Linked DNA regions of Homo sapiens. The protein of the gene in region 1 purifies or fractionates together with the protein of each later gene. This does not show direct contact. Each region holds a gene or a part of one and is shown in the gene's direction. Other genes may lie near its edges.

What was found.
Region 2: the proteins of PRDM9 (region 1) and CDC14C purify together in Homo sapiens (affinity purification with mass spectrometry, with the first as the bait; one large-scale study listed by BioGRID). This does not show direct contact.
Region 3: the proteins of PRDM9 (region 1) and GRHPR purify together in Homo sapiens (affinity purification with mass spectrometry; one large-scale study listed by BioGRID and IntAct). This does not show direct contact.

What each region holds. Positions count from the first base shown.
Region 1 is NC_000005.10:23,517,534-23,521,182, forward strand, and holds part of PRDM9 (histone-lysine N-methyltransferase PRDM9 isoform PRDM9 B), read left to right. Parts: intron 1-347; coding exon 348-397; intron 398-3,489; coding exon 3,490-3,646; intron 3,647-3,649. UniProt on the Homo sapiens protein: Histone methyltransferase that sequentially mono-, di-, and tri-methylates both 'Lys-4' (H3K4) and 'Lys-36' (H3K36) of histone H3 to produce respectively trimethylated 'Lys-4' (H3K4me3) and trimethylated 'Lys-36' (H3K36me3) histone H3 and plays a key role in meiotic prophase by determining hotspot localization thereby promoting meiotic recombination.
Region 2 is NC_000007.14:48,923,295-48,927,485, forward strand, and holds CDC14C (dual specificity protein phosphatase CDC14C), read left to right. Parts: upstream 1-1,252; 5' UTR 1,253-1,378; coding exon 1,379-2,722; 3' UTR 2,723-4,160; downstream 4,161-4,191.
Region 3 is NC_000009.12:37,425,679-37,429,327, forward strand, and holds part of GRHPR (glyoxylate reductase/hydroxypyruvate reductase), read left to right. Parts: intron 1-243; coding exon 244-316; intron 317-859; coding exon 860-976; intron 977-2,805; coding exon 2,806-2,894; exon of another isoform or gene 2,895-3,163; coding exon of another isoform or gene 3,164-3,254; intron 3,255-3,649. UniProt on the Homo sapiens protein: Enzyme with hydroxy-pyruvate reductase, glyoxylate reductase and D-glycerate dehydrogenase enzymatic activities. Reduces hydroxypyruvate to D-glycerate, glyoxylate to glycolate, oxidizes D-glycerate to hydroxypyruvate.

The sequences.
Region 1 (3,649 bases):
TCAGCACTTTGGGAGGCAGACGCAGGTGGATCACCTGAGGTCAGGAGTTTGAGACCAGCATCGCCAACATGGAGAAACCCTATCTCTACTAAAAATACAAAAATTAGCCGGGTGTGGTGGCGTACACCTGTAGTTCCCAACAACTCACAAGGCTGAGGCAGGAGAATCGCTTGAATCCGGGAGAGGGAGGTTGCAGTGAGTGGAGATTGAGCCACTGCACTCCAGCCTGGGCGACAGAGGGAGACTCCGTCTCAAAAATAAAAAATAAAAATAAAAAATAGAAGAGAGAATCTCTAGTGTTTGGAAACATTTACCAACCAAACCACTGATTTCTCATCACCTTTTAGTCAAACCTCCTTGGATGGCCTTAAGAGTGGAACAGCGTAAACACCAGAAGGTAAGTATTTCCCAAATCCTATTGACAAGAAACCTTCCTCATGGATCCAAACACAGGTAAGAGGAGGAGAATGTACAGACTATCATAGGAACTAATGCCTTCTTTTCCTGATCTCTTTAGCACAGTGTCTGACATCATCATTATTTTAAGAGTTAATAAGAACAGCAACAATAATTGCTACCATGGTGTTATTTTCTCAGTATTTTCAGACTCTATTTTAAGCATTTTACATGAATAAACTTTACATATAGTTCCTATTCAACTTTATATATAGTACCTATTAAGTAGATGTTGTAACTATAGCCATTTTACAGATGAGAAAACTGAGGTATAAAAATGTTCAGTTATATCCCTGGGATCACATTCAGTGTTGGTGCAGTCTAATCCAAAACTCCTTCTCTAAAGCACTTACAAGATCATTAACACAAGATCATTAAAAGTTTCATAGTTTTATAAAGTTTATGCTGTCTTACCCATATGTGTTACATCATTCGTCCAACTGACTTTTTAACCTCAGTTTTTCTCTGTTATGGTAAAGTGAGATTTGCACTGAAACACTCTGATTAAGGGAAGCTTCCAAGTAAATAGACAGTTCATACTGTGTTTGGTCCCAGAAGGAGATAGGGTCCCTACCCTCATAAGGGACCCATTCTGATCAGAGGAAGCAGCTTCCAGCCCTGAGGAGTTTCAGCTTTGAAGACTGAGAAACAACAAATAAGAAAATGGTTTAAGACTTCATATAGGTTACATCCTATTAAGTAAAAATATATTCTTCTGGAACTGATTTCAAATTCTCATTCCTACAGAAGGCAGTAACAGCTCCTTCCTCTGGGCTCCAATTAGGGAACTGTCATGTTGTTTGGAATTATTTGTTTAGCCTGCCTGCTGCCTCTTCATTGTGAGCTCTTCAGGAGTCTGGTCCATATCTGATTCTTCTCAGAACTCCCAAGCCCAGATCAGGGCCTCTGAGAGCCTCCTTAGTGTTTTCTGAATGACTGATTCCAAGTTTATGAATTAAACTATAAGTAACAGGGTCAAGGAATGCTGAAAATATCTTTGAGTTAGATTTCAACTGTAGAGATGTTATCAGGACTATGAGATAATTTTCATTTGTTTGTTATTTTTCTGGGTGGTGGTGGGGTGATTTGAGACAGAGTCTGGCTCTTTCGCCCAGGCTGGAGTGCAATGACTCAATCTCGGCTTACTGCAGCCTCCATCTCCTAGATTAGTGCGATCCTCCTGCCTCAGCCTCCTGAGTAGCTGGGACCATAGGCATGCACCACCATGCCCAGCTGATTTTTACGTTTTTTGTAGAGACAGGGTTTTGCCATGTAGCTCAGGCTGGTCTTGAACTACTGGGCTCAAGCCATCCTCCCACCTTGGCCTCCCAAAGTGCTGGGATTACATATGTGAGCCATTGCACCCAGTCTGTGAGAAAAATTCTTTTCTTTTGTTGAGACAGAGTTTCACTCTTGTCACCCAGGCTGGAGTGCAGTGGAGTGATCTCGGCTCACTTTAACCTCCCCCTCCTGGGTTCAAGTTGTTCTCCTGCCTCAGCCTCCCAAGTAGCTGGGATTACAGGCACCCGCCACCACACCTGGCTAGTTTTTTGTATTTTTTGTAGATATGGGGTTGGCTAGACTGGTCTCAAAACTCCTGACCTGAGGTGATCCGCCTGCCTTGGCCTCCCAAAGTGCTGGGATTACAGGTGTGAGCCACTGCACCTGGTGAGAAAAATTATTAATCTCACATTCATACTGTATTAAGTAGTTCAAAAAACACTTTGGTGAACATTATTATCTTTCATGTTCACTACAATATTAAGAATTAGCGCCAGGGGCAGTGGCTTACACCTGTAATCCCAGCACTTTGAGAGGTGGAGGTGGGCAGATCACCCGAAGTCAGGAGTTCGAGACCAGCCTGGCCAACATGGTGAAACCCCATCTCTACTAAAACTACAAAAATCAGCTGGGCATGGTGGTGGACACCTGTAATCCCAACTACTCAGGAGCCTGAAGCAGGAGAATCGCTTGAACCCGGGAGGTGAAGGCTGCAGTGAGCTGAGATCGTGCCACTGCACTCCAGCTTAGGCAACAAAGTGAGACTCCCTCTCAAAAAAATAAAAAAAAAAAAGAATTAGCATGGTCTGATGGTCTGAGTGTGGGGGCTCATGCCTATAATCCCAGCACTTTGGGAGGTTGAGGTGGGTGGATCACTTGAGGTGAGGAGTTCGAGACCATCCTGGCCAACCTAGTGAAACCCCGTCTCTAATAAATATACAAAAATTAGCTGGGTATGGTGGCACATGCCTGTAATCCTAGCTTCTCGGGAGGCTGAGGTAGAAGAATCTCTTGAACTTGGGAGGTGGAGGCTGCAGTGAGCTGATATCGTGCCACTGCACTTCAGCCTAGGCAACAGAGCGAGACTCCTTCTCAAAAAAAAAAAAAAAAAAAAAAGCATGTATGCCAATTTCTGGATCAGGAAACTAAAGAGAATTAGCTAACAATACACCCTTATTCAAGCAGACAAGCAGAAGTGGTACAGGAACTAATTAATCTAATTCCAAAGCCAAATATTCTTTCCAGGATATGGCAACATGCAACTTTGACATCATTTTCTTGGTTGTCTAGATATATTTTTGCCAATCGTCTCTTTGTTCTGTTCCCAATCTTACTGCTCTATTACCTCATTTTCCAGAAGTGCTTTGTCCCTCTGTGCTTCTCTACATTTCCCCTTCTATCAAAAGTCTACTAGTTTATGGAAGATTCCCTCCTTCTCTTTGTAAGCCCTTACCCCCTTCTTTCACAGATCTTGTTGATTCTCCAGCTAGTCTTCCCAAGTATTCCTCCTCCTTCCCTTTGACTTACATAGAACATTTTAGAGAAAGTTGAAGGAAAGAGCCTTAAGACATGGGTTAGAGTCCCAGATTCACTACTCACTTAGACCTTCTCTTTTCCCTCTAGTATTTAGACACTCTAGGTATTTTCAAGGTTTGAACATTAACTAGAGTCATGCATATGAAAACATGTTGCAAGCCGTAAAGAACTAAAGAAATTCGTGTTGTCTTTTAATATGTGACTCTCACATTAAAGGGAATGCCCAAGGCGTCATTCAGTAATGAATCTAGTTTGAAAGAATTGTCAAGAACAGCAAATTTACTGAATGCAAGTGGCTCAGAGCAGGCTCAGAAACCAGTGTCCCCTTCTGGAGAAGCAAGTACCTCTGGACAGCACTCAAGACTAAAACTGGGTA
Region 2 (4,191 bases), on another chromosome or scaffold:
TATTAATAAATGATAAGAAAAGGCAAGGGAAATCAACATCCTCACTGCATGCCTTCAGACGTGTGTTTCCTATCAGATACGGGTATTCCAACAGAAACTGGAGAAAAGAAAATACAATGCATTCACTGGACAGAAATATTGTGGACGGGGGGCAAGCATTGGGACAGTGGTGAGCAAAATTATTCTTGAGGTCCCCATTAATCAAAATATTTGTGGCATCCAGAAGCTTGAATCTTTAAGGACAAATATGAATCTTTACCCATCTTCTTTTACTCTTCTCTCCTTTCTCCTAAACTAACTCTAATATATACATTTACTTTTAAAATTTCATAAAGCCTATCTAATTGGGAATTTAGGTCTCACTCCTTGTGGACACCAGAAGGATATAAATGATTAGGGGAAATCCCACCAAACAGAAAGGGCAAGAAGATGTATGAATGAGTAGTAAGCTCAAGAACAACCCATCAGTCCTCTTCTTTATTTTACCCCCAAACCAAAACTTAGGGATGAAGCTTCACGAAGCTCTCTTTTGTGAAGGAGAGAGGCCTGTTCCGTTGCCAAGGAGTGCAAAGCTGCACATTGGCTTTGGGATGACATTGGGTATAAAATTTATCACTTGTGATATCCCTGTGTGATCTTCTACACACATTGTTTAGCTTCTCCAAGACTTTTCTTTGGAAAGCCCACATAGAACAGAAAAAAGAAATGCCATCTTTTAAACTATCTATTTAACTATCTTGTGGCCCCATGTTTCCAAGGTTGGGGTATTGGGAGAGTTGGTGAAAGAGCAATATGTCAACATTAACTTGTCTCCAAGCAGGCATGACTTTCAATATCAAATGGTCACAACCTCCAACTTTTAATGGATCCTAAATGAGTGCTTCAAAAATACTGTCATTTGGTAATAAAGTCATACTCGAAGTAACACTTATTTGGCTGAATTTCCAGAGACTGGAGAGAAGGTTAAGATCCAGGTGGTTGCTATGACAAGAGCATGATGACTTATTCATCCAACACTTTGTTGATGTCAGTATGATATAGCCCTTCAGTTCATGGTTTAAAAAAGCAAAGGGAGGGCGGTTGCGGGAGGGAGCGGGGCAGGCGCTGTGGGCCAGGCCCCTCCTCTGGCTCCTGCACCACCGCCTCTTTTCGGGCTCCGCCGGCTCCCGCCGTCCCTGCAATGCCGCTCTGTGCCCGCCGTCCTGAGAGCCCGCGCGGCACTGGCGCCAGCCTTGGCGGCGCGCGCGGGGCCGTGGTCGTTGCTCCCTGACTGGCCGCGGCGGCCTCCAGGAAGCGGAAAAGCAAGGGGCGGTCGAGCTGGGCCGCCGCGCCCCACTGCTCGCCGCGCTGCTCTTTGACCTCGCAGGGTGTGAAGAAGATGCGCAGCTCCACGCTGCAGGACCCGCGCCGCCGGGACCCCCAGGACGACGTGTACGTGGACATCACCGATCGCCTTCGTTTTGCCATTCTCTACAGCAGACCAAAGAGTGCATCAAATGTACATTATTTCAGCATAGATAATGAACTCGAATATGAGAACTTCTCCGAAGACTTTGGACCACTCAATCTGGCAATGGTTTACAGATATTGTTGCAAGATAAATAAGAAATTAAAGTCCATTACAATGTTAAGGAAGAAAATTGTTCATTTTACTGGCTCTGATCAGAGAAAACAAGCAAATGCTGCCTTCCTTGTTGGATGCTACATGGTTATATACTTGGGGAGAACCCCAGAAGCAGCATATAGAATATTAATCTTTGGAGATACACCCTATATTCCTTTCAGAGATGCTGCCTATGGAAGCTGCAATTTCTACATTACACTTCTTGACTGTTTTCATGCAGTAAAGAAGGCAATGCAGTATGGCTTCCTTAATTTCAACTCATTTAACCTTGATGAATATGAACACTATGAAAAAGCAGAAAACGGAGATTTAAATTGGATAATACCAGACCGATTTATTGCCTTCTGTGGACCTCATTCAAGAGCCAGACTTGAAAGTGGTTACCACCAACATTCTCCCGAGACTTATATTCAATATTTTAAGAATCACAATGTTACTACCATTATTCGTCTGAATAAAAGGATGTATGATGCCAAACGCTTTACGGATGCTGGCTTCGATCACCATGATCTTTTCTTTGCGGATGGCAGCACCCCTACTGATGCCATTGTCAAAAGATTTCTGGATATCTGTGAAAATGCTGAGGGTGCCATTGCAGTACATTGTAAAGCTGGCCTTGGTCGCACAGGCACTCTGATAGCCTGCTACATCATGAAGCATTACAGGATGACAGCAGCCGAGACCATTGCGTGGGTAAGGATCTGCAGACCTGGCTTGGTGATCGGGCCTCAGCAGCAGTTTTTGGTGATGAAGCAAACAAGCCTCTGGCTGGAAGGGGACTATTTTCGTCAGAGGTTAAAGGGGCAGGAGAATGGACAACACAGAGCAGCCTTCTCCAAACTTCTCTCTGGTGTTGATGACATTTCCATAAATGGGGTCGAGAATCAAGACCAGCAAGAACCCAAACCTTACAGTGATGACGACGAAATCAATGGAGTGACACAAGGTGATAGAAGTCGGGCCCTGAAAAGGCGAAGACAATCAAAAACAAACGATATTCTTCTCCCATCTCCCCTGGCTGTGCTGACCTTTACACTGTGTAGTGTTGTCATCTGGTGGATTGTTTGTGACTACATTCTTCCCATCCTGCTATTCTGACTCAAAGATTTCAGAACATAGTAGCCATCAGGACCCCCTGACAGATAGCTGCTTCTCTCCATTTCAAGGACTAAAATGGTTTTGCATTAAGTAAAAACCTGTGACCAGAACTGAAGGAAGACTCTAGGAACTGAAAACTGCAACAGAAATTAGCACAATTTGAAAACAAAACAAAATTGCAAAAGACTTAGTTGCTTTCCACCTAAGAAGCTAATCAATGGGGAAAATGTCCACGGGGTTTCAGTAATGAACTTTTGAGTTTGGGTGCAAGCAAATGTACCAAGACCAGCTCAGTCAGGGAGACCCTACCCCAGTGGTGCTAGAGGAATTAAAGACACACACACAGAAATACAGAGGTGTAAAGTGGGAAATCAGGGGTCTCACAGCCTTCAGAGCTGAGAGCCCCGAACAGAGATTTACCCACATATTGATTAACAGCAAACAAGTCATTAGCATTGTTTCTATAGATATTAAATTAACTAAAAGTATCCCTTATGGGAAACGAAGGGATGGGCCTAATTAAAGGCATAGGTTGGGCTAGTTAACTGCGGCAGGAGCACGTCCTTAAGGCACAGATGGCTCATGCTATTGTTTGTGGCTTAAGAATGCCTTTAAGCAGTTTTCCACTCTGGGCTGGGTGGGCCAGGTGTTCCTTGCCCTCATTCCGGTAAACCCACACCCTTCCAGCGTGGGCATTAGGGCCATTATGAACATGTTACAGTGCTGCAGAGATTTTATTTATGGCCAGTTTTGGGGCCAGTTTATGGCTGGATTTTGGGGGGCTTGCTCCCAAAAAGAATGACTCAAAGAAAGGCCCAGCTCTCAAGCTGAATGACAAAAATGCTGTTGTAAATTTAGTCTCAGGTGTAAATACCCAAGCCCTCTGGTACTCAGGGAGCTGGCTGGTCTGTGGTGCATGTGTGTCCTTGTGATGGCAAGCATTGTAGTTGATGGCCTTCAGAAGAATTGAGGATCTGATGGAGGTTTTTTAATGTATTTATTTTCTGTTCAGCTTGTGACCCTGTGTCAAAATTTGTAAAGATACAAAAGGCATTACTGAAATGGTACTTTCTGTAATTTGATACTATTTGGCTTTACCATCTTCACTTGACTGTTTGTAATACTGTAGTAATATTAACTCTGATAAGTACCCAAGCTGCTTGTCTTCTACCAAAGAGTGCTTTATTAACAAGAATCTGTGAAAACCACATTTTAAACACTGTTGCATGTTGTAATACCAGGTGATACCTTGGTAACCTAAAACTTGCAAGAGAATATTAGTGGTAGCTTTAGAAGACTCAGGAGGAGAAACTGACTTCAGAGCTGGAAGATGTTGCAAGTCATTCCTTTTTCTGTCCTTTAGGGACTGAAGAACTGGGAGGTTGCCCATTGTTTGGTTGCCAGTCATACAAATTAAAATCATATTTCCTTCCATGCATGGAAAAAACACACTATTGGTTTTTCGCCTT
Region 3 (3,649 bases), on another chromosome or scaffold:
TGGTGGCAGAGGCCCTGAGGTGAACCCGGCTCTGCCTGTGACTGAGCCAGGCCACTTAACCTCCCTGAACTGCAGTGTCTGAGGCTGTCAAAGGGGATTATTCAGAGTTTTAACTGAAGAACAGAGATGTCAGCCTCTTATTCTAAGAAAACAATAATAAGCGGTGTCCCCATGATAGTCCCCAGTGCTGTGGCTTTGAGTTCCTCGAGGAAAGATACTAACAATGCACTTTCTGCACAACAGGGGCCAATCTCAAAGTCATCAGCACCATGTCTGTGGGCATCGACCACTTGGCTTTGGATGAAATCAAGAAGCGGTAACTGCAGCTTGGGATCTGGAGGGGGCCTAGAGAGAGGGGTGGCTATGAGAGAAAGAAGAGCTGTTGATTTGTTTTTACTGCATATCCCTCGGCCATTCAGGGAGAATGTGAGGTGGCTGATGATAGAATCTGTCCACATGTGCACAGGTCAGTTACAATAAACCCCAGCAGTCAGAAACAGTGGGTAACTTCTGTGTAGGTGGCACCCTTTCACATTCATTATCTTTTTTGATCCCCACAACAATACCTTGAAGTAGCAAAGGCAGGTGTTATTCTTTCTGTTTCAGATGAGGAAATTCAGAAAGGTTAAGTTACTTGTTCAGTCCCTGAACCCTGATCTTCCATCTTCATATCCTTCCAAAGTGGGAGATAATCTAAATAGGAATGAGGACTGCCCGTTTTTGAGTGCTCATTTATAGTTCTGAGCTTCCTGGCAGGCAGATCAAAGAGGGAGCAAAGTAACTCCATGGAAATGTCCCAGCAGTAGACATTGGTAAATATGGTTGAGGCTGATGTTACCACCAGATGTCTGATTCGTAGTGGGATCCGAGTTGGCTACACCCCAGATGTCCTGACAGATACCACCGCCGAACTCGCAGTCTCCCTGCTACTTACCACCTGCCGCCGGTTGCCGGAGGCCATCGAGGAAGTGAAGAAGTAAGTGAACGCAGACCAGGTGCGGTGGCTCACGGCTGTAATCCCAGCACTTTGGGAGGCCAAAGTGAGCGGATCATGAGGTTAGGAGTTCGAGACCAGTCTGGCCAACATAGTGAAACCCCGTCTCTAGTAAAAATACAAAAAAAATTAGCTGGGTGTGGTGGTGGGTCCCTGTAATCCCAGCTACTTGGGAGGCTGAGGCAGGAGAATCATGTGAACCCAGGAGACAGAGGTTGCAGTGAGCTGAGATCACACCATTGCACTCCAGCCCAGGTGACGGTGTGAGACTCTGTCTCAAAAAAAAAAAGAAAAATAAGTGAACGCCTGGCAGGAACGTTGGCTCTGCTCAGCACTGGATCCTGATCACTGTGCCAGTCCAGCCCACGCATAGTCCCTGACCCCAGGTGTGCCCCATTGAGTGAGGACTCAGCTAAAATAAAGCACAAAGCAGAGCTGCAATAAGGGCAGAAAGGGAAGTGGTGAGAGAAGAGGATGAGGGAGGACAAACAAGTTCTGCTGGTGGGTGAGGGCTGGCAGGGAGAGTGTGGATCAGGGAGGGCTTCACAGAATAAGTAGCAGGTGGGCGTCCGCTTGAGTCCTGAAAGCTGCAGGTCCACCATCCCTTAGATCCCAAAATCTAAAAAGCTCGGACAGCTGAAAGTTCTTTCATACTAACAGGAGACTATTTAAGGCTTTTATTTCTCCCATTTAATGTGACTTTCCTAAGTTTTGCTGCAGATGTAACACTTTTAAAACAGGCTGCTGCCCAGACACTGCAGAGGGTGATGTGTGGAATCTACCACGTGCGCCATGCTGCCTTTCTAAAGGCCAAACAGTTTTAAAATCTAGCCTGAAGGTTTCAGATCAGGGATTTCGGCCTGTATATCAAGAGTTAGAGTTGGCCGGGCACGGTGGCTCACACCTGTAATCCCAGCACTTTGGGAGGCCGAGGCGGGCAGATTGTTTGAGCCTCAGGAGTTGGAGAACAGCTTGGGCAATGTGGCAAAAGTCTGTCTCTACAAAAAATACAAAAATTAGGCAGGCGTGGTGTTACACGCCTGTAGTCCCAACTACTCGGGAGGCTGAGGTGGGAGGATTGCTTGAACCCAGGAGGCAGAGGCTGCAGTGAACCGAGATCATGTCACTGTACTCCAGTCTGGGCGACACAGCAAGACCCTGTCTCCAAAAAAAAAAAAAAAAAAAGTTGGGGGAAGCATTCCATGTGCAGATGGAGGGACTGGCCCGAGTCAAGGTGGGAGGCGTGCAAACGCAGGCTCTCACAGTGCGTGGCCAGCAGCGTGGGCCCCGGCACGGGGCATGGAGCAGAGTAGACAGTGCTGAGTCCTGCTCACTGTCCTGTCTGGGGAGTCATCACATCTACTGGAGGTGGCTCAGGGCAGGCTCCATCTCTTGCCCAGGGCAGCAGGGTGGGCCCTGTGGCTGTACTCTTTGTTGCTGCCCTAAAGTGCCAAGAGAACTTGTTTTGGAATCATAAATCCTGAGTTTGCAGCCTGTTGCTCTCAACTCTTCCCTGGTTGTGTGACCTCAGGCAAGTCACCCTTTCTGGTTTGTTTTCCCATCTGCAAAACAGGATGAGAGCCAGTAAGGCCCCTTCCCGCCCTCAAGTTCTATGTCTCTGGTGGCTTTAAAGGTGGAGTCGTTTCTGCTGCTCATCTGCAGTGCCGAGTGGCAGTGCCTCATCCCACTCTCAGTCCGTGACCTGGAGGGTGGGTTTATACCTTGGACCACAGTCAGAGGTGCCGGGTTCTCAGCGGCCCCCATCTTGGTCCAAGGCTGGGCCTCTCACCTGCCCCTCTCTCTCCCCTCAGTGGTGGCTGGACCTCGTGGAAGCCCCTCTGGCTGTGTGGCTATGGACTCACGCAGAGCACTGTCGGCATCATCGGGCTGGGGCGCATAGGTGAGGCTCCCACCGGCCCGCTTGCCCGCCCCGGCTCTCACAGCGTGGTTTGCATCCCTGGCACCACGTGTCTGAAGGCTGAGAAGACCCACATGCTGTCAGGGCACTTTGCTTGCAGTAGAGATATCTCTAATGAGGGATACAGCTTTGTAAAACACAGGCAAATACATAAATAAACCAAAGCAGGATTCCTTAAGAACTCACCAGGTGATAAAAGCAAGTTGCCTAAGGGTCAGGGGGCTTCATGATTCCGGCTCCATAAAGAACAGATGAAGACTACAAATGTGTTGGGGCCGTTAGGAGTGGTTACCGTGAGAGAGCCCATTCCCCCGACACCTACTCCGGCTTGCGTTCTGGAAGGTATGTGACTCACAAAGCCCTAACTCGGGCCGGAGGGCTCAGTGGGCAGAGTTGATCTGCAGTTCTGCAGATGAGGCAGAGACACTTTTCTTCCAGTGGCCCTTATTTGGAGAAGCCTGGCAGAAGGGCGTGAGCCTAGCCAAGCAGCTATCTATTGGTGGTTCTCTGTCATCCTGCCTGGTGCAGGGGTGCGGGTGAGGGTGGAGAGTGTGGAGAACCTGTCTAGCCAACGAACAGCCCTGCCTCTCACTAGAGAGTTGCTTGGAGGAACCCAACAGCTTTGGGGCACGTTCTGAGCCTGAAAATCCAACTGTACAAATCTGTCTCAGCAGCAGCTTACATGAAAATTGTAAGTTTGGGGTGAGCTGGCAGTTTGGCAGTGCCACCAAAAAGTC